Linked DNA regions of Homo sapiens. The protein of the gene in region 2 purifies or fractionates together with the protein of the main gene of each other region. This does not show direct contact. Each region holds a gene or a part of one and is shown on either strand. Other genes may lie near its edges.

Region 1 (8,148 bases), on a different chromosome or scaffold from region 2:
TGTCCTTTTAAGAGATAAAAGGAGGGCTGGGTGCAGTGGCTCATACTTGTAATCCCAGCACTTTGGGAGGACGAGGTGGGCAGATCACCTGAGGTCAGGAGTTTTCAAGACCAGCCTGGCCAACGTGGTGAAACCCCATTTCTATTAAAAATACAGAATTAACAGGATGTGATGTCTGTGATTCCAGCTACTTGGGAGGCTGAGGCAGGAGAATCGCTTGAACCTGGCAGGCAGAGGTTGCAGTGAGCCAAGATCGCACTAGTGCACTCCAGCCTGGGTGACAGCGGGAGACTGTCTTAAAAAAAAAAAAAAAAAAAGGAAAGAGGCCCACAGAGTTAAGCCCATGTGACAACAGACTGGAGTGACATGTCTGCTAGCCAAGGAGCACCACGAGTGGCCAGCAGCCACCAGAGCTGGGAGAGAGGCCTGGGACGGCCTTGCCCTCCAGCCTCCAGCTGGAGCCAGCCCTGCCGCCACCTTGACTTCAGACTTACGGCCTCCAGAGCTGTGAGGAACGAATCCCTGTTGTCCTTAACTGCCCGGGCTGTGGTGCTTTGCCACAGCAGCTCCAGGACATTGAGACAGGTGACCTCCCAGGGCCACTGTTTCTCCCACCCTGCACTTACTTCACCAGCTGGAGTGAAGGCAGGGAACCCTGGGTCCCCCAGGAGCAGCAGCTGCTGTGAGCATCACAGAAAAGCAGCCCCGGAGAGCAGGCGGTCCAGGCAGGGGCTTGTGGTCCGTTCATCTGGCTGCACAGCCGCGACCTCATTGGCAGGACGCCCCGGGGACAAGGAGCATCCATTAGTAATTGGTTTTGGTTTTGATTTTGTTTTCTTGAGATACGGTCTTGCTCTGTCGTTCAGCCTGGCATACAGTGGCACAATCTTGGCTTACTGCAGCCTTGATCTCCCAGGCTCAAGTGATCATCCCACCTCAGCCTCCCGAATAGCTGGGACTACAGGCACGCATCACCATGCCTGGCTAATTTGTATATTTTTTAGAGATGGGGTTTTGCCTGGCCGGGCGCAGTGGCTCACACCTGTAATCCCAGCACTTTGGGAGGCCGAGGCGGGCGGATCACGAGGTCAGGAGATGGAGACCATCCTGGCTAACACGTGAAACCCCATCTCTACTAAAAATACAAAAAAAATTAGCCGGGCATGGTGGCGGGTGCCTGTAGTCCCAGCTACTCGGGAGGCTGAGGCGGGAGAATGGCATGAACCCGGGAGGCGGAGCTTGCAGTGAGCCAAGATCGCACCACTGCACTCCAGCCTGGGCGAAAGTGCGAGACTCCGTCTCAAAAAAAAAAAAAGAGAGATGGGGTTTTGCCATGTTGCCCAGGCTGGTCTCAAACTCCTGGGCTCAAGCGATCCGCCCAGTAATTGATTTTGTTGCTGTTGCTTGTTTTTGAGATGGTCTCCCTCTGTCACCCAGGCTGGAGTGCAGAGGTGTGACCACAGCTCACCGCAGCTTCAACCTCCCGGGCTGAAGCCATCCTCCTGCCTCAGCCTCCCAAGTAGTTGGGACTACAGGCGCCACCAGGCCCAGCTGACTTTCTTACTTTTTTGTAGAAAAAGGGGTCCTACTATGTTGCCCAGGGTGGTCTTGAACTCCTGGGCTTAAGCGATCCTGCCTTGGCCTCCCAAAGCGCTGGGGTTACAGGTGTGAGCCACAGTACCCGGCCCCATTGGTAATTGTAACACCTTAGGATGACAACATTACAGTACCAACGCTACGACAACTGGCAGTGTTTATACACCCTTGTGTGCTGGAGCCTCAGGAAGCTTTGTAAGATGGTCTTGGGAGCTCCTTGCTCCTCCCCTGCATGATCCCTGTAACATGGTCCCTCAGCACGGGGAAACAGACTCAGACCTGAAGTCACTTGTCTGTTGGACCTGGCACTGTGGCGAGCCCTCAGTGGAGCCTGGTTGGTATCAGACATGCCATGCCCTCAGTGACACCTCAGACACGGGCCCTGGGCAGACAGCCCCCAGATGCGCGTGGATGCTTACGGGGTCACAGAGCCACGTTTGAACCCAGAAGAACACCAGCTTTGGTCTAGGGTGGCCCCCTCACCTGCCTTCTCTTTTTAGCTGCTCAATAGCCATGGGGAATGGAGGGTCTGGGTCCAGTTAGGGACATGGAGGCATGGGTGACCTGTGCCCTCGGAGCTGAGCCGGTCCTCAGCCTTGCCTGGGCTCAAGCCTGGCCCTGGCCCGCAGCACACTGGCCATCTTCAGGGTGCAGCCAGCACCCTGGGCTCTCAGGGACTGAGGGCAGCTGCCCTGGCAGTGGGGGTGCCCCAGGGCTCCCATCCTTCTGCACGGCCCCTCGGCACCCAGGCCGACCTCCTGCTAGAAGACGTGGCCTTGAAGCCCACAGGGTTGATGGGTTATGGTCAGGAGTCCCAGCTGGGCCCACCAGCCTCCTCAGGAAGGCGGGTGAGGTTGGTGTGAGACTGACGGTGCCTCCTCATGTCCCCTTGGAGCGCCCCACCCCACATCTCCCGGCCTCGGGTCCTTGCCTGGCCCAGCATGAGAGGTGCTTCATAGGAACGGAGGGAGGACATGTCGGGACAGCTCGATGCTCGGCCTGCTGCTGCTCTGCACCCCCAGGGCCTGGCTCACCCTCTCTGGACCTGTCTGCTTCCAAGGAAGGGGACCCTCTGAGGTCCCACAGAGGCCACCCCAGCTGTGGGTCGTGAGCATCTCTGTCTTGCAGGGACAGCATCGTGGCCGAGCTGGACCGAGAGATGAGCAGGAGCGTGGACGTGACCAACACCACCTTCCTGCTCATGGCCGCCTCCATCTATCTCCACGACCAGAACCCGGATGCCGCCCTGCGTGCGCTGCACCAGGGGGACAGCCTGGAGTGGTGAGTGGCCTCCCTGCTCTGGGGCCAGCCCAGGGAGGCAAGTGCCCCCTGCCACATCTCCAGGCTGCGCACGGCCTCGCTGGCTGTCGTCATGGGAGCAGAGAAAGGTGGTGCTGAAATGAGGCCCTGGCCTGCTGTCCAGGCTCCAGCTCCCCTGCCCAGTGTGGGAGGCACTCCCATCTGCGCACCAGGCTGCAGATCCAAGGACACGGTGCCCAGGCTGCAACCCTCTGTTCCCAAGGGCAGAGCAGAAAGCGGCTTTGTCTCTGCTCGGTTTCTGTGTCCCCACCCCCCACGAAGCCTTCTGTGTCTCGGCCCTGGGCCCAGTCTCTCAGGCCTCCCCGGGCCCCCCATACCGGCCCTCCTCCAGGGCCCTCTGGGGTTGGGGTGCTGAAGCCCTGCAAGGTTGGTGCCCCCCTCCACCCTAGGATGTGACTCCGGGCCATGTCCAGGGCACTGGTCACAGAAAGTGTGTCAGTTCTTCCCCGTGAGCTGTCCCTGCAGTGCCTGCCTTCCACTGTGAGTTGCAAGCTGGGCATTTCATGGTCGCTGTGGATCTGCTCCCATCCCACCTCCATCCACAGAGGGCTTAGAATTGCAGGGCGAGCCAGGCATGGTGACATGCACCTATGTTTCCAGCTACTTGGGAGGCGGAAGCAGGAGTATCCCTTGAGTCTGGGAGGTGGAGGCTGCAGTGAGCCGTGATGGTGCCACTGCACTCCAGCCTGGGTGGCAGAGCCAGACCCTGACTCACACACAAAAAAGAAAATAAATAGGGATGTCACACTGTCGGCGAGCCGGCCGACTCGGTGCTGGTCCAGGTGCTGGCTCCTGTTGGCAGGAAAACAAGAACAAGAGGCCTCACGAGTAATTCGTGGTCACAGCCACCTGGGGCTGAGAGGGATGAGGGGACGAGGGGGCCTGCAGAGAGTGGGTGGCCCCAGGGCTCTGCTGCAGGTGCAGGTGCAGGGGCGGGTGCGTGGCCCTCCTCTAGGGCCTTGTTCCTGAGTGTTGATGCCTCCAGGGTGTCGAGTCCGGGCAGGGCCCTCCATCTGGAAGCACAGCCCATGGAGGCTGCTTCTCCAGATGGGCGGTGAGTGGGCCGGGGCCTGAAACCCCATCCTGGGTACCTCCCCCAGAGCTCCTGGGCCTGAGGAAGCTGAGCGGTGAAATGTGGGAGTGAGGGTGTCCTCCTCTGCTGGGCGGGGCTGGTGGTCCTAAGCACAGGACTTAGGAACATCCCAGACACACACAGTGAGCCCTGGGTGTGGAGCGGCCATGCAATGTGTCTGTGGCGACCCGCTGACCGCCCCCTCGCCCTGTCCTGCAGCACAGCCATGACAGTGCAGATCCTGCTGAAGCTGGACCGCCTGGACCTCGCCCGGTGAGCCCTCCTGCCCCTCTCCACCCGCACTGAGCCACAGCCCAGAGCGTCACAGCCCAGAGCGTCACAGCCCAGAGCGTCTGTGGTGCTGTCATTACTCTTGTTGTCTTTCCTTTCCATGGGGGTGGCTTGCTGTCGTTCAGCCCTTCCCTGCAGTATGTTGCCAGGGAGGAGGGCCATGGCTCTCTGTGCCTCAGTTTCTCTCTATGCAGTGGGTGGCAGGCCTCTCCCACAGGGTGAGGGTGGGCTTCATGGAGGGAGAGTGGAGGTTGTGCCTGGAGCAACATGTTACTTGACCAGCTTGTAACTGTGCCGTGGGGCTGGCGGGGCCTGCACGTGGCATCACCAGGTCGGAGGCCATGGCTGGGGGTCCAGGACTCCCCTGCTGCCGTTTCCAAAGCCCTTGCCTCAGAGTTGTTCACACTGTAGTTCCGTTGCCCTTCCCTGCGTTCCATCCTCCATGGAGTGAGTCTCTCCTGAGCTCTACCTTGTGGTGGCCACCCTGGGGGGCCATAGCTGGCCCCAGTCCCACCTTCCCAGGGCCTGCACGTGGTCAGACGGGCAGGGTGGCTCGGGCACTTAGTCGTGGGGTATGAGCATGCAGTGGAGCACAAAGCAGGGGCCATCCCCAGGCTCCGGTGGGCCCCAAGTGGGGACAAGGCAGGGATGGCCAGGCCAGGGCCCTCGGCCACTCAGCCCCTCTGTCATCTGTCCCCGCCCCAGGAAGGAGCTGAAGAGAATGCAGGACCTGGACGAGGATGCCACCCTCACCCAGCTCGCCACTGCCTGGGTCAGCCTGGCCACGGTGAGCCCTAGGCCATGAGGTGGGTGGGCATTGCGGGCACCTGGCTGAGCAGGGTCTGTGGGCACCCCCACCTGTGCGTAGGCTGCTGGCCACTCCAGTGGGGCTCCAGGATCAGGCCGTGGCCCCTGCCAGCCTGGCATAACTCAGCCTTGACTCCATTCCGGGCTTCTCACAGCCAAGCGACTTGGCCAGAGCCAGAGCGAAGAGATGGTGGGGGCGGGGACGGGTTCCTGAGCCTGAGGCACAGGGGTACTCGAGGGTCTGGGTTGGCCTGGCAGGCCCTCCTCCCCTCAGGGCTTCCTGGGGTTTTCTGCGACTCAGCTTTGCTCTCCAGGGTCCTGGTCGCCAGCCAGGGACGGAGTTCAGTGTTCCCATAGCAGCGGTGGAGATGTCCTCAGCTCCCAGGCCTGGGCACCTCCGCCCGGCAACAGCCCCTCTCCTGGTTTCTGGGACTTGGCCCCCTTCTGAGCCACTCTTTTGTGTGGGCCTATTAAAATGTGCTTCCTGGCTGGTCGCAGTGGCTCACGCCTGTAATCCCAGCACTTCGGGAGGCCGAGGCGGGTGGATCATGTGAGGTTGGGAGTTCTAGACCAGCCTGACCAACATGGAGAAACCCCATCTTTACCAAAAATACAAAATTAGCTGGGCTTGGTGCCATGCACCTGTAAACCCAGCTACTCAGGAGGCTGAGGCAGGAGAATCGCTTGAACCCGGGAGGTGGAGGTTGCGGTGAGCCAAGATCGCGCCAGTGCACTCCTGCCTGAGCAACAAGAGTGAAACTCTGAGAAAGAAAAAAAAATGTGCTCCCCGTCCCTGCCCGCCACGGGGCTGAAGCCTCACCCAGACAGACTTCCAGTGACCGTCTAGTATGGTAGGACAGGCCCCGGCAGACCTATCGGGTAGTTTGGGCTGTTTTCACTGCCTGCCTTGGCCTCAGGCTCCCCCTGCAAGTGTTCTGCTGTTCTGAGCAAGTGGACAGGTCAGGGCTGCTGGTCACAGAGCTGACTCCTCCTCCTCTGACGTGCTCAGTGACCCAGTGGTCCCCACTCAGACCCTGAGCCAGCCACCTGTGCACTGAGGCCTTGGAAGCCCCAGATTCCACCTCTGTGTACTCAGCACTCCGGGAGCTGGGTGGGAGGTGGGGCAGGAGGCGGCCACGAGTCTTTAGGCCCCATCAGCAGAGTACAAGTTACGGGTAGTCCCCATGGCGGAGTGGCTGTGCCTTGAACCGGGCACACCAGATTCGTCTCTGTGCAGTGCTGGAGTCCCCCCCGCTAGGGGAGGGGGCTGGCGGGGGAAGGGCCGGGCAGCAGGGGCACAGGCAATGATGCGGGACCCTCCCTGCAGGGTGGTGAGAAGCTGCAGGATGCCTACTACATCTTCCAGGAGATGGCTGACAAGTGCTCGCCCACCCTGCTGCTGCTCAATGGGCAGGCGGCCTGCCACATGGCCCAGGGCCGCTGGGAGGCCGCTGAGGGCCTGCTGCAGGAGGCGCTAGACAAGGTAGGCACAAGCCTGTCCCAGAGTGGGGACGGAGGGAAGGCCAGGCGGCCAGAGGGTGGGGTCAGGGCGGACAGAAACAAGTGTAGCAGAGACCCCCTGGGTGTGCGTGTGGCCCCACAGGGCTTCTAAGGCCCAGTCAGCAGCGAGATCCACAAAGCAGGGATCTCACCTGCAAAGAAATCCAGATTCCGGCCTCACAGAAATGGGGCATCTGGGCAGCCTGGGCCTCAGTGGTCTGAGCCGTCCTTGTTGTCACCTCAGCTGCCTGGCCCGGGACCTGCAAGTGGGACCCCTCACCTGAGTACATACTCAGTATTGGAGAGACACTCCCCGTACTTATGTAGGGGAGAGTGTGCTGTGGACAGGAGCTCTTCGTTGAGAGAGCGCTGCCTGCCCAGGGTGGCTGCAGTCATCTCCTGCCTGATGTCTGCAGTCTTTTCTTCCTTCCTTCCTTCCTTCCTTCCTTCCTTCCTTCCTTCCTTCCTTCCTTCCTTCTTTCCCTTCCTTCCTTCCTTCCTTTCCTTCCTTTCCTTCCTTTCCTTCCTTTCCTTTCCTTCCTTTCCTTCCTTTCCTTCCTTTCCTTTCTTCTTTTTTTTTTTTTTTGAGATGGAGTCTCACTCTGTCACCCAGGCTGCAGTGCAGTGGTGTGATCTCAGCTCAATGCAACCTCCGCCTCCTGGGTTCAAGTGATTCTTTTGCCTCAGCCTCCCAAGTAGCTGGGATTACAGGCGGCTGCCACCACGCCTGGCTAATTTTTGTATTTTTAGTAGAGACGGGGTTTTGCCATGTTGGTCAGGCTGGTCTCAAACTCCTGACCTCAGGTGATCCACCCGCCTCAGCCTCCCAAAGTGCTGGGATTATAGGCGTGAGCCACCACGCCTGGCCATCTGCAGTCTTTATGAAGAGTTTATGTTATGTTAAATTAAAAATATATATATATTTTGTAAAGACGGGGTTGTTCTTGCTGTGTTGCCCAGGTTGGTCTCGAACTCCTGGCCTCAAGTGATCGTCCCACCTCAGCCTCCCAAAGCATTAGGATTATAGGTGTGAGCCACCATGCTTGGTGGATTTTTTTTTTTTTTTTTTTTGAGATGGAGTCTTGCTCTGTCGCCCAGGCTGGAGTGCAGTGGTGTGATCTCGGCTCACTGCAAGCTCTGCCTCCTGGGTTCATGCCATTCTCCTGCCTCAGCCTCCCGAGTAGCTGGGACTACAGGCGCCCACCACCATGCCCAGCTAATTTTTTGTATTTTTAGTAGAGATGGGGTTTTGCTGTGTTAGCCAGGATGGTCTCAATCTCCTGACCTCATGATGCTGCCCACCTTGGACTCCCAAAGTACTGGATTACAGGCGTGAGCCACTGTGCCCAGCCTGGATTATTATTTTTATAATCAGAAAGGACATCAAAGCTTTTTCCATTTTGGAGAAACGAATTTTGGGGGGTTTTTTGTTTGTTTTTTGAAACGGTATGCCACCATGCGTGGCTAATTTTTGTATTTTTTGTTAGAAATGGGGTCTCACTGTGTTGTCCAGGTTAGTCTTGAACTCCTGGGCTCAAACAATTCTCACCCTCCTTGGCCTT
Region 2 (8,148 bases):
AAACTGTTCACAATTTAAAAATTAATTGGAGGGCAAAGTTTCCCATCAGAGATGCATGGGTTGACAAATTTGAAGCTATGGTGAGTAAAGGAATGACAGACCTTAATCATTTCATTCGATTAAGGCTACAGTCTCAGACAGCTAAGCCACACTTGAGCAACATTAGACCAGATACTTTTTTTCACCAAGAAAAAAAAAATCAGAATCTTGGCTTTCAACATTAGAAATTTCTCATCCCAGATACTTAATAAGTGAGAATAATTTGCCTTCCAATTTTTTGACACCCAATAGTTTTTCCAAGTTAAATTTTAAAAAAGCATAAGAAAGTAAGCAGCTCTGGCGGAGCGCGGTGGCTCAGGCCTATAATCCCAGCACTTTGGGAGGCTGAGGCGGGCGGATCACGAGGTCAGGAGTTTGAGACCAGTCTGACCAACATGGTGAAACCGTCTCTACTAAAAATACAAAAATTAGCCGGGGGTGGTGGTGTGGAATGCCTGTAATCCCAGCTACTCAGGAGGCTGAGGCAGGAGAATCACTTGAACCCTGGAGGTGGAGGTTGTGGTGAGCCGAAATCATGTCACTGCACTGCAGCCTGGTGACTGTCTCAAAAAAAAAAAAAAAAAAGGCTGGGCGCGGTGGCTCACGCCTGTAATCCAGCACTTTGGGAGGCAGAGGTGGGCGAATCATCTGAGACCAGGAGTTCAAGACCAGCCTGACCAACATGGTGAAACCGTCTCTACGAAAATACAAAAAAAATTAGCCCGGCATGATGGCGGGTGACTGTAATCCCAGCTACTCTGGAGGCTGAGGCAGGAGAATCGCTTGAAGCTGGGCGACCGTGGTTGCAGCGAGCTGAGATCGCACCACCACACTCCAACCTGGGCAGCTAAGCGAGACTCCATCTCAAAAAAAAAAAGTAAGCAGGTTTATCTGAGGGAATTATCAACAGTTCCCAAAAATTGTTCCCATTATCCCTCATCCCTGGATCACTTCTCATCACGGTCTAATGGGGAAGAGAAGACTCCAAGACTCCAAGATTAAAGATGAAGCCTGACTTTTTTGACTCTCCAACTGCCGTCTGACAAAATTAAGACTCCAATCCCCAAAAAGGCCAGAAGTAGCATCAAATTCAAAAGCTACACTGTCAGGAGTGCATGTATCAAATGTAGAAAAATACGCAAGGAAGCACAATACATATAAGATGGAAAAAGGCAATGAATACTCTCACAGATTACTTTCTCTTAAAAAAAACATGTCATTAATTTTTAATGTTAGGTCCCATTACAGCATCCTGAATCAACAAGCAGACACCAAAGTGAGTCAATAATCCAATAAACATCTCATTTTATAATGCGCTTTATTTGATTAAAGAATTTGCCTTCTTTGTATACACTGGAATGTTATATTCCCTATGTATTTTACAGGGTTACAAAATGTCTCTCATTTTAAATATTACCCCAAAAGTAATCTCAGAAAAAAAAGGTTTTTTGAAATTAAACTTGACTTTTAAAAAATCATACGGACAAACAACTTTCAAACAAAACTGGATTAGTAGGATTTCTTGCCTGCTTAACTAACATGACAGACTTCTTGTCCCAAGCCCTTCTCAGAAAAACCTCATGTGGAAACCAAGCTAGAGATAAGAATTCTTCCCTGATGCAGTTAGGGGAAAGGGAAAGGCTAGAAACTTCTTTGGCAAGCAATTCCACACACAGCCATTTATGTGTGAGTGCTCTGCTTCAAGCACAGTACACTCTTTGCAGGGACGGCCAGATGTTCAGAGTGGGAGTGGTACTTTTCAACCAGCTAAAAGTGCAGAAGTCATCTAGTCGTCTGCCTCTTCCCACTGCCAGTGCCTGCAGCCTTGCAGCAACTTTTAACCACCCCTATGGACTGGAATATTGAGTTAAAAGCCAAGGCTGAGCTGGCTGACGCTGTAGTCTCCATTGAAAAGGAAATGGATGAGATGGAACCGAGAAACCACCAGTACATGATGACACTCAAAAGACTTAGGGGGAAAGAGAAGGAAGGATTTCAGAGATGGGGACAGACTGGTGGAAAATGTTGGGCTGACTGGAAGGAAATGGGGTATACGTGAGTAATATGTACATATCGAAACAATCAGTTGCCTCCTGAAATGCAAAAAATCAAATGGTGAAATGGAGCCTCCTTGATAGTTTAGGGCCAACAGGATTGGCAAAGACTCCCTGAACCCACAGCCTTCAAAATCATAACCCCATTTCTGTTAGAAAGGAGGGGACTGATGACAGAGAGTGCAGTCTGGAAGAGGGAGGTGGTGAAACTGAGGAATGTGAATGGATTACAGACTGTGGCCATTACGTTTTAGCTTAAGTACCCAAAATGTGGAGAAATGAAAATTTGGGTAGCAACAGCAGCAGACATGATTACATGTGGATGTGAAATCCCTAACTGGACAGACATAACCATTCTTTTAGACATCTTGAAGAGGGACTGTGCCATTTGAAAGGTGCTTCTCAGCTATCTTTAATATTGACACAAGTGGGATTCATGGTACTGTTCTAAACTGGAAGGACAGGCCCTGAAAGGAAAACAACTTGGCAAAGAGATGAAGGAATGAATTGATACGGGAAAAGAACAGAAGACATGCGTATCTTTTAACTTCTAGACCCCATACCCCTCAAATAGTTCACCTGAATAGTCCAAAAATCAAGAATGGGTTAGATATACTTGTTCCAGGAGTGCCAAATAAATATAATGCCTGTAAACAGATGATCCCAGTGCCTGACTGAATGTATAGAAAGAAAAACCTAAAGGTAAAGGGTATGAATGATTAAAATTTTCTACAGAGAAAACTTTTTAAAAACAAACTAAGTATGAAATATAACTATATTTAGGGATTATATTTAGGGATTAAAATAAAGGAGCAGCTGGGCATGGTGGCTCATGCCTGTAATCCCAACACTTTGGGAGGCTGAGGTGGGCGGATTGCCTGAGCTCAGGAGTTCGCGACCAGCCTGGGCAACACGGTGAAACCCCGTCTCTACTAAAATACAAAAAATTAGCCAGGCGTGGTGGCGTGCACCTGTAGTCCCAGCTACTCGGAGGCTGAGGCAGGAGACTTGCTTGAACCCAGGAGGCGGAGGTTGCAGTGAGCTGAGATCATGCCATTGCATTCCAGCCTGGGTTACAAAGTGAGACTCCATCTCAAAAAATAATAATAATAATAATAATAATAATAAAATAAAAATAAAGGAGCAACTTAGGTAAAGGTAGAGGAGGTATTTAACTGGGGGCATTCTCTGGAGAGCTTGCTTTCCTGCTGGCCAATACAATCTGCCAAAGAAAATTAGCAGCCTTTCCCTTTATGTTTGTGCCATTTCCTTATCAAAGAATGTCTCTGTGACACTGAAACATGGGGGTGAGTCGAGGGTCCTTGCGCGCAGAGAATCGTGCATTGTATCAGAAAAAAGGGGTCTCCAGTGGCTTGTAAATCTGGGAAAAACTCTTCAGCCATCATTGGCGTCTTCTTTATTAATCTGAAAATTTTCCTTTTCAGCTCCCTCTTCTTGGTATTACAGAATTTCATACTTATCCACTAGGAAAGTGGTCTCTGTGGAAAACCTGACGGGGCTGTTTCCATCTACCTGGGTCACTTTGGTAACCTAGGAAAATAAACAAAGAGTAAGGTAAAGCAGGAGGTTTGAGTCTCCATCATGTTGACTACATTCTCATTACAGAACATATCAATTTCCCTAAAAGCGGTATTAAAAGTAACTGTAAAATACTAGAAAAATGTTCAATTCACAACTGAAAGTCACAGCATCACTCTTCCCCACCAAAATGATTAAGCTGCTTTTCTTCTAGATGGAGAAAAGACAACTGTTGGGACGAGATGTTCCGTAGTATTAAGTAAAAGCTCCAAAATGAGTGGCCACAGCCCAGCCCTGCCCTGTATAACCTATGAAATTCATAGACATTCTATCAGGATGATATATTAACATTCTGACCCAAAAGGCAACGTTCTAGCTCTTCACATTATTCATTTGCTCTGCTCTCAAAGTCTCGTGTTAAAAGTCCCAGTAAGCTGCTCTATCATACTTATTTTTTAGGCATGGCTGGTCCAATGAGGTTTTTCCTTTTTAAATAAATAAATGTCCAGCTTAATTAATTACATGTAACAATGGTACCTATAACGGCACCAATACAACACTTGAACCACTGATTCGTATTTTCTAATGAAGTTTTGGGAGAGCAATTATAATGTCCTAATCTTTGAATAGCCCCAATAGGAAAATTTACCCATTTCTATCTAATGTCTTGAGTTCAATACAGTTGCTTCCAACACTGATGGGGTTATGTCACTAACAGGATAGGGAGAGAGAACTGCTCTTTGGAATCATTCAAGGGAGGAAGCTGCAATTTTCTAAGCATTTACAGGGGAGACGGAGACCATATGGGAAGCTAAGGTAGGGCCAGAACAACAAGCAAGTCAAAAAGAGGGGAATATTAATAATATAAACTGGGTCCTAGTAATGCAAATTAAAAAACTGGAAGAACAGCCAGACGTGGAAGCTCACTCCTGTAATCCCAGCACTTTGGGAAGCCGAGGTGGGCGGATCATCTGAGGTCAGGAGTTAGAGACCAGCCTGGCCAACATGGTGAAACCCCATCTCTACTAAAAATACAAAAAAAAATTAGCTGGGTGTGGCAGTACACGCCTGTAGTCCCAGCTACTTGGGAGGCTGAGGCAGGAGAATCACTTGAACCTGGGAGGCAGAGGCTGCAGTGAGCTGAGATCGCACTGCACTCCAGCCTTGGTGACAGAGCAAGACTCCGTCTCAAAACAACAACAACAATAAAAACTGGAAGAATGATGAGTTAAAAAATAATGATCCGGGCCGAGCGCGGTGACTCGCGCCTGTAATCCTAGCACTTTGGGAGGCCGAGGTGGCTGGATCACGAGGTCAAGAGTTTGAGACCAGCCTGGCCAACATGGTGAAATACCGTCTTTACTAAAAATACAAAAATCAGACAGGCGTGGTGGCGCATGCCGGTAGTCCCAGCTACTCAGGAGGATGAGGCAGGAGAATCGCTTGAACCTGGGAGGCAGAGGTTGCAGTGAACCAACATCACGCCATTGCACTCCAGCCTGGGCAACAAGAGTGAAACTCCGTCTTAAAAAAAAAAAAAATCCGCCAGGCGTGGTAGTTCACGCCTGTAATCTCAGCACTTTGGGAGGCTGAGGTGGGCGGATCACCTCAGGTCAGGATTTCGAGACCAGCCTGACCGATATGGTGAAACCCTGTCTCTACTAAAAATACAAAAATTAGCCAGGCATGGTGGCAGGCGCATGTAATCTCAGCTACTGGGGAGGCTGAGACAGAATTGCTTGAACCCGGGAGGCAGAGGTTGCAGTGGGCCGAGATCATGTCACTGCACTCCAGCCTGGGCAACAGAGCAAGACTCCGTCTCAGAAAAAAAGGAAAAAAATCCATTGGGCACTGTGGCTCACACTTGTAATCCCATCACTTTGGGAGGCTGAGGCGGGTAGATCACCTGAGGTCGGGAGTTCAAGACCAGCCTGACCAACATGGAGAAACCCCGTCTCTACCAAATATACAAAAATTAGCAGGGCATGGTGGCGCATTCCTGTATTTCCAGCTACTTGGGAGGCTGAGGCAAGAGAATTGTTTGAACCTGGGAGGCGGAGGTTGCGGTGAGCTGACAGCGCGCCATTGCACTCCAGCCTGGGTGAAAAGAGCAAAACTCCATCTCAAAAAAAAAAAAAAAAAAAAAAATCCGAAGGAACAGCTCACACATCTCCATTGCTTTGCCTACCTAAAGGACAGAGTTTGCAACAGAATTGGCTCATGATTATTTGTACTAATAAAGGGAGCTGTGACATAAATAACCCTCAAATAATTTCCATTTGTAATAGAATGGATTTTTTTTTTGTAGTAATTTTGTCTTCTAAATAAAACAATTTCATTCTTTGGGTATAAATCAAGTGACAGCAAGGCCTTAAAAAAACCATGTGTTGGGGTGTTTTGGCAAATCGACTTTAAAATATATAAGGTTAAAAAAAAACAGGCAACTAAGTGTTTATGAATCTTGCATAATCCACAAGTACTTTTATCTGTATTAACATTCCATTTCTTTACTTTGTCTGATCTAGAGAGGAAAACTGAGGTAAAGCAATAAAAGAATTTGACCACGATCATACAATGAATTAGAAAGGGAATTCCTGTAGGAGACATCAGTTTTTTTCTGAGCTTTATCTGACCACAAAAAGCCATGCTACCTGTCTGGCATCCTATACGTGTTCCTACTGTCCTACCACTTTCCCTATATATGTTCTCAACTAAAATGGAGTACCTGTATGTTACAGTAATTTTTCTTGGAGACAAAGGAAACTTGAACAGGGAAGAAGTCATTGGGCTGCCCAGCAATGCTAAACTCCAGGCTGCCACTCTTATTTTTGGCATCAATCACAGGCAGGCACCACTCCAGGGTATTTCGTCGACTGTCATGTCGATACTCCCCATCGATCTCACCGATAACAGGCGCGCCGACACCAGACCTGTTGTGAGAAACATTCTGGTCAAGGTAGCTGTTCAGAGCTAGAACTCCACCACGGAAAACCAACCCCAAATTTGATATATGATCCCCAAATTTTGCCTTCTAGGACTACAATTTCAGGGGAAAAAAAGGCTAATAACTTCAAGGATCAAACGATGAAGTCCTAGCACCTTGGGCTAAGAGTTTCACTCAATTCCCTCTGTAGATATAGTTAATATGCAAAAATAGGTATTTGGCAGATATGCCTATGGGCTGCTCCAACTTAAGGACTAGATCTGGGGACTGCGACCAACAGATGTGTTAAGATGGCTATGTTTCCAAAAACCCTGCACCAATAGGTTGCTGCCCTATAAATAAGGAATTTTAACATAATGTAGCACTCTTTATAGGAGACAATGGGGAAACAAGCAGATTGATAATAGTGGGGGAAAACTCTAAACATCAATAGTGGAGATGAATGGAGGCCTTTGAGAGAATTTGTTTTCTTGTTCATTTGTTTTTTGAGACAGAGTCTTGCTCTGTCGCCAGGCTGGAGTACAGTGGCGTGATCTCAGCTCACTGCAACCTCCGCCTCCCCAGTTCAAGCGATTCTCCTGCCTCAGCCTCCCAAGTTGCTGGGACTACAGGCGTGTGCCGCCACGCCCAGCTAATTTTTGTATTTTTAGTAGAGGCGGGGTTTCACCATGCGGGCCAGGATGGTCTCATCTCCTGACCCCGTGATCCACTTGCCTCGGCCTCCCAAAGTGCTGAGATTACAGGCATGAGCCACCGCACCCGGCCGAGAATTTGTTTTTAAAGATTTCAGAATGTTTCAAACTTATTGAAGTTGACACCAATGGGTTTATTTGATTTACAATCCAGTAAATGGACTTTTATTTGATAAGTGAAAGCACAATTACCCCTGGGGCAAAATGGAAACATGATGGGAGAAACAGATCCGTAGTTGTCCTTAATCTGCGAGAGAAGCAGGGCTAGTTAAGATTTACTCTGCACCCCTACACACGGCTGACAGGCAGTGTCACCTACTCCTACACATTCTAAATTTACCAGCTTTTAATTCACCAGTGACACTCAATGTTTATATTAGGGATAGGGTAAATAAGGGAGACAAAGTAAACTTTAAGGGTGGCATAAGACTATTAACTCTTCCCTATCAATTTCAGGGTCCTGGTTCTTTTATGTTCCTTCTCTGTGCCCTTGCTCTAATTCTGATTCTGATCTCTTCTAATTTGATCAGTTCTAGACAACGGGAGTAAAATGTTGTGTAAGGGTCTCTTCTGGAGACCATTGCAAAACTGAACTAGAATACAGGAAACCACCACAACCACAATTATAGGGTAGACAGGCCTCAAAATTGTAGCATTCTATAAATAGTCTAGTAAACTAAATCTTGACAAACAAAACTCTACCTGTCACCAACACCCAAGTCCTACAACAGTTCAAGGCAGCCATCTATTGTTCTGAAGCAATAACCATACTGTAGAGGATAAGATGGTTACCCATTAAAGGGGATACTGGTAATAAAGTATATTTTTAAAATTGGAAACAAGAATGACTAAAACCAGACCTGATAATGTAAAGGCTTGA
Region 3 (8,148 bases), on a different chromosome or scaffold from region 2:
CTGACTGCGACGGATTAGCCCCTAAAGAGCTAGCGATTTAGCAGCCTGCATCTCCGCCCCCTTTGCCAGGGAGAGCCTGGGAATGGGCTCAGTGGTATGCTGGATGCTTCTTTCAGCTTGCAGAAAAGAAAGCTAAGATAGATCATAGGGCAGGGTTTGCCTTTCTTTGGAGGAGGTTTTTGTAGCCTTTCCCCATTCCTCAGCTTCATACAGTGAGTGAGGGTCTATGGAAGTGTTCTGTGCTTCTAGTGTTTTTTGTGTTCTCTGGCACTGCTTCCTGACATGGGGTAGCTCCTAGGAAACACTTGATGAGAATGGTTTTAGGAGAGGTCTAGATTGCAGACAGCTGCAGAGCCTCACTGTAGGGCTGGTAGGCTTCTGCCTTCAGACAGTCTTGGAAATGTGAGGTGGGGTTGCTTATGGCAGGGTCTTTTATTTATTTTTCTTGGATTACTCACTGCCCATTCTCTGCCTCTACAATCCTTCCTTTTCCATGTCAGTATTTCTCCCTTGCCCCATGCCTTGAAGGAGAGAAATCCAAGATCCCAGGGCAAAACATAGTCACTAATCATTCTGGCTTCCAGCTCTAGTGACCCAACCCTGTCTTCTTTCCCTCTGACCAGTACTATGACGACACCTACCCCAGTGTCAAGGAGCAAAAGGCCTTTGAGAAGAACATTTTCAACAAGACCCATCGGACTGACAGTAGGTCATTTTCCTTTCACTACTACCCGTGCTGGGGGGAACCATGGTGGAAAGGGGGTGGTAACAGGGCTGCAGAGAAAGGATGAAATGACTCTGCCTTTTTCTTTTTTTTTCCTTCTTCCCCTTGTATAATAAACTCTTCAGAATGTAATGGGGAGGTGAGTGTACCTCACGCGGGAATACCATGCTGGAAGGTTGGCTGTTAGCTACCTGTCTAGTCCCTGGATTTATGAGCCTCACTTGACAAATTTAATTGCAGCTCTGCTTATTGTACCGCATCCATTAGGGCAGGTAAATGGAAGTCTGTAAAGGTGACCGCTCTGCATTTTCACCTCCGAAGGATCGACTAGTATCCTGTCTCATATACAAGTAGGGAAATAGGTATAGTGGGCAGGAACAGAGGATGGTGGTTACAGAAGATACATTTAGACTCCCCCAAGTTCATACTTCTCTTCTCCTGCCACCACCCAAAAAGTGCAGATCATCTTCTGGCTTTGGAAGTCATTACAGGCGGCCTCACCTTAGCCCAAAAGAGCTGGATACTAGGAATTCATGGTAACGCCTTCTTTTTTTTTTTTTTTTTTTTTGAGACAGAGTCTCTCTCTGTCACCCAGGCTGGAGTACAGTGGCGAGATCTCGGCTCCCTGCAACCTCCGCCTCCCAGGTTCAAGTGGTTCTCCCATCTCACCCTCCTGAGTAGCAGGGATTACAGGTGCACACCACCACGCCCGGCTAATTTTTGTATTTTTAGTAGAGACGGGGTTTCACTGTGTTGGCCAGGCTGGTCTTGAACTCCTGACCTTAGGTGATCCGCCAGGCTCGGCTTCCCAAGGTGCTGGGATTACAGGCATGAGCCACTGCGCCTGGCTGGTAACTCCTTCTTTCCTACTTCCTTATCTCAAGCCACCCACTATTTTTACTTTTTTTCCCCCACCAGGTGAAATTGCCCTCTTGGAAGGCCTGACAGTGGTATACAAAAGCAGTATAGATCTCTATTTCTATGTGATTGGCAGCTCCTATGAAAATGAGGTGAGAATCCCCACCCCTCTTTGCTATTTCTGATCCTACTTTCTAAACCACAGGCAGTACATAGCCACTGGTTTGGGGCCCTAATAGAGCCGTGTTCCTCTGGCTTCTGACCAAGCTAATGAAGTTGTCAGAGATCCCACCAGCCTCACAAACATGGCCCGGCAAATGAATCGCCTAGAAAGGAAGTTTTCCTAGATTAATCTTTTGCATCCATTAGGAAACATCATATATGTTTTAATACCTTTCCCTGAGTAGTGTTTTTTAAGATGGATTTCTGAGGTATGGTCAAGACTGCAGGGGGATACTTGCTTCTTCTATGAAGGGTCCATACCTGACTGAGTTTGAGCCAATTAGCTAACAACCTGGGTCATGTTGAAACCATACATTCTGAATGGATCACTGGAGAAGACCTTGGGTATAGTCCTAACCTGCTTCCTATATGCAGGAAAAGCTGTTTGCCTCAGATAGCAACTTCTAGGAGAATAGATAAATAAAAATAAGCCCCCAGATAATTTGAGGCAAAAGTGAAAGTTTGAGAAAGTCAACTCTTACTGAGCTCTTATTATTGGTATAAGTGCTTTGTAAAGTATATTGTTATTTAAACCTCATAGCACTTCTATGAGTTGTAGGCATTGGTGCCTTTGTTTTACAAATGAGGAAACCAAACCATGAAGAACTATATGAAATTACTTGTATGTGACCATTGAGAAAAGTACAAAAGTGGCAGTTATCTGATGTGGTTCAACCTAGTAACTTTCTCAGGGTCACACATGTAGAAAATGGCTCAGCTTGGATTCCAACCCATATCTGTCTGACTTAAAGTCCATGCTTTTTAAAAAATTTTGAGACATAGGCCGAACGTGGTGGCTCACACCTGTAATCCCAGCACTTTGGGAGGCCAAGGTGGGCGGATCACTTGAGGTCAGGAGTTCGCGACCAGGCTGGCCAACATGGCGAAATCCCATCTCTACTAAAAATACAGGCCAGGCATGGTGGCTCACACCTGTAATCCCAGCACTTTGGGAGGCCGAGGCAGGCGGATCACGAAGTCAGGAGATTGAGACCATCCTGGCTAACACAGTGAAACCCCATGTCTACTAAAAATGCAAAAAATTAGCTGGGCGTGGTGCGGGCACCTGTAGTCCCAGCTACTCGGGAGGTTGAGGCAGGAGAATGGCATGAACCTGGGAGGCGGAGGTTGCAGTGAGCCGAGATCATACCACTGCATTCCAGCCTGGGCAACAGAGCGAGACTCCGTCTCAAACAAACAAACAACAACAACAACAAAAATTAGCTGGGCGTGGTGGTGGGCGCCTGTAATCCCAGCTACTTGGGAGGCTGAGGCAAGAGAATTGCTTGAACCTGGGAGGTGGAGGTTGCAGTGAGCTGAGATTGCGCCATTGCACTCCAGCCTGGGTGACAGAGCCAGACTCTCAAAAAAAAAAAAAAAATTTGAGACAGGGTCTTGTTCTGTCTCCCAGGCTGGACTGCAGTGGTGCGATCTTGGCTCACTGCAACCTCTGGCTCCCAGGCTCAAGTGATTCTACCACCTTAGCCTCCCAAGTAGCTGGGACTGCAGGTGCCCACCACCATGCCTGGCTAATTTTTTTTTGTATTGTTTGTAGACAGGGTTTTGCCATGTTGCCCAGGCTGGTCTCAACTCCTGAGCTCAAGCAATCGGCCTGCTGCAGCCTCCGAAAGTGCTGGGATAGAGTCAGAGTCTAGACAGGGTCTAGACGTTACAGGTGTGACCCACTGTGCCCAGCCAATTAAAGTCCATGCTTTTTACACTAACTCTGAAGCCTTCCTCTGACCTCAGCTATTGCTTGGTTAGTAATTTCTCTACCTAAGACATCAGGTAACACATATACAGTTGGTGAAGACATTGTAGAGGACTGTGACAGGGAAGTTCTGTTTAAACTTTTGGCTAAAAGATGTTGAATTGTGGAATCATGTAGCAGAATTTATTTCTGTGAGAAATCACAGATCCTTTTCCTGTTGTGCTCTCACTTCCACTTTATGTTTTTGGTCCTTTGTGAAAGCCTGTGTCTTTTGATGTTTAATGAATTAGGAGGTTTTGTTTTTAGGTAGCAGCTTTCAGGGCCTTGAACCTTATCCTTCTGCCTCCTCTGTTTCCCAACAGCTGATGCTTATGGCTGTTCTGAACTGTCTCTTCGACTCATTGAGCCAGATGCTGAGGTGAGCAGGACATTCTTTTTTTTCCCCTCAAGTTATGATGGAAAGAGCAGGGCATTGTTGATTTCTTTTTGGGAGATAAAGTAACCATTCTTCAGGCCCAGGGATTGTAGGGGATTGGCAAAGGCTCCAGGGAGTTGATTTAGTTTTAGAAGTTGGGTTTTGCCGGGCTCAGTGGCTCACGTTCGTAATCCCAGTACTTTGGGAGGCCAAGGCGGGCGGATCATGAGGTCAGGAGATTGAGACCATCCTGGTTAACATGGGGAAACCCTGTCTCCACTAAAAATACAAAAAATTAGCCGGGCATGGTAGCGGGCGCCTGTAGTCCCAGGTGCTTGGGAGGCTGAGGCAGGCGAATGGCATGAACCTGGGAGGCGGAGCTTGCAGTGAGCCGAGATCGCGCCACTGCACTCCAGCCTTGGCGACAGAGTGAGACTCTGTCTCAAAAAAAAAAAAAAAAGTTGGGTTTATTAATTCACAGTAATTCATGCTACTGGGGAGGACTGGATGGAGAGTATGTCCCTCCCATAGAATAATTCTCTTACTAAGTAAGGGGACTGGGAGGGAGCCGAATCTTTACCTCTGTGTTTACTCTTGTAATCCCCTGTGGTCCTGTCAGATCTGAGCATCCTCAAGGTGCTTTCCTGGGCTTCATTCTTGACATTAGAAGTAGGGAAAGGCCAAGCATAAGGAAGTGTCCCAGATGAAATGTCATTCAGTACTTCAGGAATGGAAGCAACACTCCCAATTTTTTTTTCTTTTTTTTTTTTTTTGAGATGGAGTCTCACTCTGTCACCCAGGCTGGAGTGCAGTGGCGTGATCTCGGCTCACTGCAACCTCTGCCTCCCAGGTTCAAGCGATTCTCCTGCCTCAGCCTCCCGAGTAGAGTAGCTGCAATTATAGGCACGTGCCACCACGCCTGGCTAATTTTTGTATTTTTAGTGGAGACAGGGTTTTACCATGTTGGCCAGGCTGGTCTTGAACTCCTGACCTCAAATGATCCACCTACCTTGGCCTCCCAAAGTGCTGGGATTATAGGCATGAGCCACTTAGACCAGTTTTTTTTTGACTTCTAGTCCTTGTTTTTTCCCTTCTGTAGAACAGGAAGCACCCAGGCAGGAGGACTGCATGAGTCGAGTTCAAGACAAGCTTGGGCAACACAGTGAGACCCTGTCTCTGCAAAAAATAAAAAAATTAGCCAGGTGTGGTGGTGCATACCTGTAGTCTCAGCTACTTGGGAGGCTGAGGTAGGAAGATTGCTTGAGCCCAGGAGGTTGAGGCTGCAGTGAGCTGTGATCATGCTACTGCACTCCAGCCTAGGTGACATAGCAAGACCCTGTCTCAAAAAACAAAACAAAACAAAAAACAGGAAGCTTCTGCCATTTACCCTCTCCTCCCTTTCCACCTTCCCACTAGCCCTCTGTTCTCTGTTACCCGTGTAGATGGGTAATAGAAGAGATATAAGTTACTTTTCCTGAAAACATCCAGGGCTCTGAACTTCATTCCCCCAGCAGCTCCCAAGTGAACCCAGTACAGACAGCCATCCAGACCAGAACAGCAGGCACTCTCAGCCCTGCAAAATCAGCAGGGTGAATGGCTCAGATTTCCTCAGGAAGGGGATGATTTATTTCTTATCCAGGTGAATGAATAGTAATTCATTCGGGTAATCTAGTGAAAGACTCAAACTGACAGATGTGACAGGCCACATGCACCAACCAACGGATCTGAGGCTGGTGTATGCAGACCCTGCCCCCTCTTTGGGCTTCTTTTCAGGGCCTGAGCAGAGCTGGTAAGGGATAGGGAGAAGAGGGAACAGAGAATGTCTCAGGAGGTTTGTCAGAGCTTGAGTACAAATAAGGTTTGCATTGAACCCCTCTCACCTCCGGCCACCTCCAGACTGAGTCTTAGCTCTGTTTATATTGTTTTTTTCCACCCACTGATGTCAGTGTTTATGAGCAATGTTATGAGCAGCATCATGGCAGGTAGGAAAGAAATAATAGCGTGGATAATCAACCCCTGAATAGTCAGAAATTGACTGTGTTATTTGAATCTCTTTCCATACATTCCTTATTCAGCAAACGAGTAGAAAGGGGTTTTGAGTGAACTAGCTAAAAAGTTCTTCACCTTATTTACTTCTTTGTGTGGTTGGTGGAGATGTTTATTGGTCTAGTTTAGGTTCCTCAATTGAGACAAGGTCCTAGGATTTCTTTCACATACAAGTTGGTTATTCTCTTCTCTTCTCTTGGGGACTCAGGAAAAATGTAGAAAAGCGAGCACTGCTGGAGAACATGGAGGGGCTGTTCTTGGCTGTGGATGAAATTGTAGATGGAGGGTAAGTTCTCTGACCTGCCTTGATCTTGGGTGAGGTGGCGGGATAACTGCCCCTGTCCTAAGTCAAGCAGGCTCAGTGGCCAGAGGTCCTGTTCCCCGACAGTGAGTTGGGCCTTCGGGACAGAGTGAACAATGATCTCTTCTTTGTTTTTGCAGGGTGATCCTAGAGAGTGATCCCCAGCAGGTGGTACACCGGGTGGCATTAAGGGTAAGCAAGAATGTGTTTCTTTGCATCCCCGCATCTATTCACAAACACCCTCCAGAGCCAGACCTGCTGGATGTGTCCAGTAGTTGGGGCTCATAGGATACATACAACCTTCTCTTTTTCTTTCAAATACATTCAGCCTTTCTCTTCCCTTCTCTTCTTATTGTCCCAAAGAAAGAAGCAGAAATAACTTATTTCTACCCCTAATATGGTGCCTAACATCTCATACAGTCTTTGCACAAAGTGGACATTTAATACATACTTATTTAATAAATGATAAAATAAACTTTAATATTTATGGTTTTGAAATTATAAAGCAACTTGAAGTTGGCTTATTCCCTTCTTGGAGATGGATCCAGTCATCTGAGGCAGAGGAGTGTCTGTTTTGTCTTTTAAAGTGTTACATAGGACTGAGCGTGGTGGCTCACACCTGTAATCCCAGCACTTTGGGAAGCCGAGGCTGGCGGATCACAAGGTCAGGAGTTCGAGACCAGCCTGACCAACATGGTGAAACCCTGTCTCTACTAAAGACACAAAAATTAGCTGGGCATGGTGGTGCGTGCCTGTGATCCCAGCTACTCAGGAGGCTAAGGCAGGAGAATTGCTTGAGCCCGGGAGGTGGAGGTTGCAGTGAGCCGAGATTGCACCACTGCACTCCAGCCTGGGCGACAGAGTGAGACTCTGTCTCAAAAAAAATAAATAAATAAAATAATAATAATAAAGTGTTACATAACTGAGGATGGTACCTCTCCATTAGGAAGTACTTATTTGCCAGAACCTCAGTCCTCTTTGGTGCTGGTGATATCAGAAAGGGGCCTCTGAGTTAACCATAGAAGGCCCCAGGTCAGCTGAGGAGATAATGGTGGATGCAGAGAGAGCCCACCAACAAATTATACGGGTGCAAAGATGTCTGAGCAAAGCAAATCTCCCCATTCACAGAATGTCCTGGCTCTGACCTCCACAGAGTGAAGGCTGACAGTGCTTGGTAATGGGAAATCTCTCTTAACTGCTGTGGGCTCCATTTGCATAGTTTAATCTTCTCCTCTAACATATGTCTCTGTGTGGCAAGAGAGAGGGTCCCCCCCATCAACTCCCCGCTTTGTCTTCTTAGGCTGCTGTTGCAGCAGTTTATTTCTTCAAATTAACATGCTGTCGTTACCCATCAGGCTTTGCGGGATCCATTAAACCACTCCTGGCTCCCCCTCATCCTTTCCCTAGTGATACTGATATTCAGAAAAGGCCTTTTCTGACTAGGGAATCAGGTCCTCCACCCCCACGTTAAGGGAGTTGAGGATCAGATAACCTGCTGGTTACTCTGAATGGAGTTAAATCTTTTAAGAAGTCCTCCTGCCTTAAAATGGAAGCTGGATGAAATGACCCTTTTTTGTTCATAGTCCCTCTGGCCAAGTAAAATTGTAGCTGTACTAGTCCCTAGAAGGGACTGAGAAGTTCAGTGCATCTGCCCTTTGTTTCAGTTTAAAGGATCACTTTTTTCTTCTCTAATACCAGACTCCAATCAGGTCTTACTCCAGCTTTCTCCCACACTAAATGCTTGTATCTCTGTGCCATAGGGTGAAGATGTCCCCCTTACGGAGCAGACCGTGTCTCAGGTATGACTCTCCCTTCTTCCTTTCCAGATGGACTGGGTCACTAAAGAGGCTAGAACAGCATTCCACCCATAC

The links.
Region 1: the proteins of ARCN1 (region 2) and COPE purify together in Homo sapiens (affinity purification with mass spectrometry; 4 studies listed by BioGRID and IntAct, with this or other methods). This does not show direct contact.
Region 3: the proteins of ARCN1 (region 2) and COPZ1 fractionate together in Homo sapiens (co-fractionation; 5 studies listed by BioGRID and IntAct, with this or other methods). This does not show direct contact.

What each region holds. Positions count from the first base shown.
Region 1 is NC_000019.10:18,901,689-18,909,836, reverse strand, and holds part of COPE (coatomer subunit epsilon), read left to right. Parts: intron 1-2,724; coding exon 2,725-2,877; intron 2,878-3,901; coding exon of another isoform or gene 3,902-3,970; intron 3,971-4,207; coding exon 4,208-4,261; intron 4,262-4,984; coding exon 4,985-5,066; intron 5,067-6,413; coding exon 6,414-6,569; intron 6,570-8,148. UniProt on the Homo sapiens protein: The coatomer is a cytosolic protein complex that binds to dilysine motifs and reversibly associates with Golgi non-clathrin-coated vesicles, which further mediate biosynthetic protein transport from the ER, via the Golgi up to the trans Golgi network.
Region 2 is NC_000011.10:118,596,121-118,604,268, reverse strand, and holds the end of ARCN1 (coatomer subunit delta), read right to left. Parts: intron 6,563-8,148; coding exon 6,358-6,562; intron 3,645-6,357; coding exon 3,555-3,644; 3' UTR 1,236-3,554; downstream 1-1,235. UniProt on the Homo sapiens protein: Component of the coatomer, a cytosolic protein complex that binds to dilysine motifs and reversibly associates with Golgi non-clathrin-coated vesicles, which further mediate biosynthetic protein transport from the ER, via the Golgi up to the trans Golgi network.
Region 3 is NC_000012.12:54,341,583-54,349,730, forward strand, and holds part of COPZ1 (coatomer subunit zeta-1), read left to right. Parts: intron 1-623; coding exon 624-705; intron 706-1,642; coding exon 1,643-1,734; intron 1,735-3,877; coding exon 3,878-3,933; intron 3,934-6,184; coding exon 6,185-6,262; intron 6,263-6,417; coding exon 6,418-6,469; intron 6,470-8,037; coding exon 8,038-8,076; intron 8,077-8,148. UniProt on the Homo sapiens protein: The coatomer is a cytosolic protein complex that binds to dilysine motifs and reversibly associates with Golgi non-clathrin-coated vesicles, which further mediate biosynthetic protein transport from the ER, via the Golgi up to the trans Golgi network.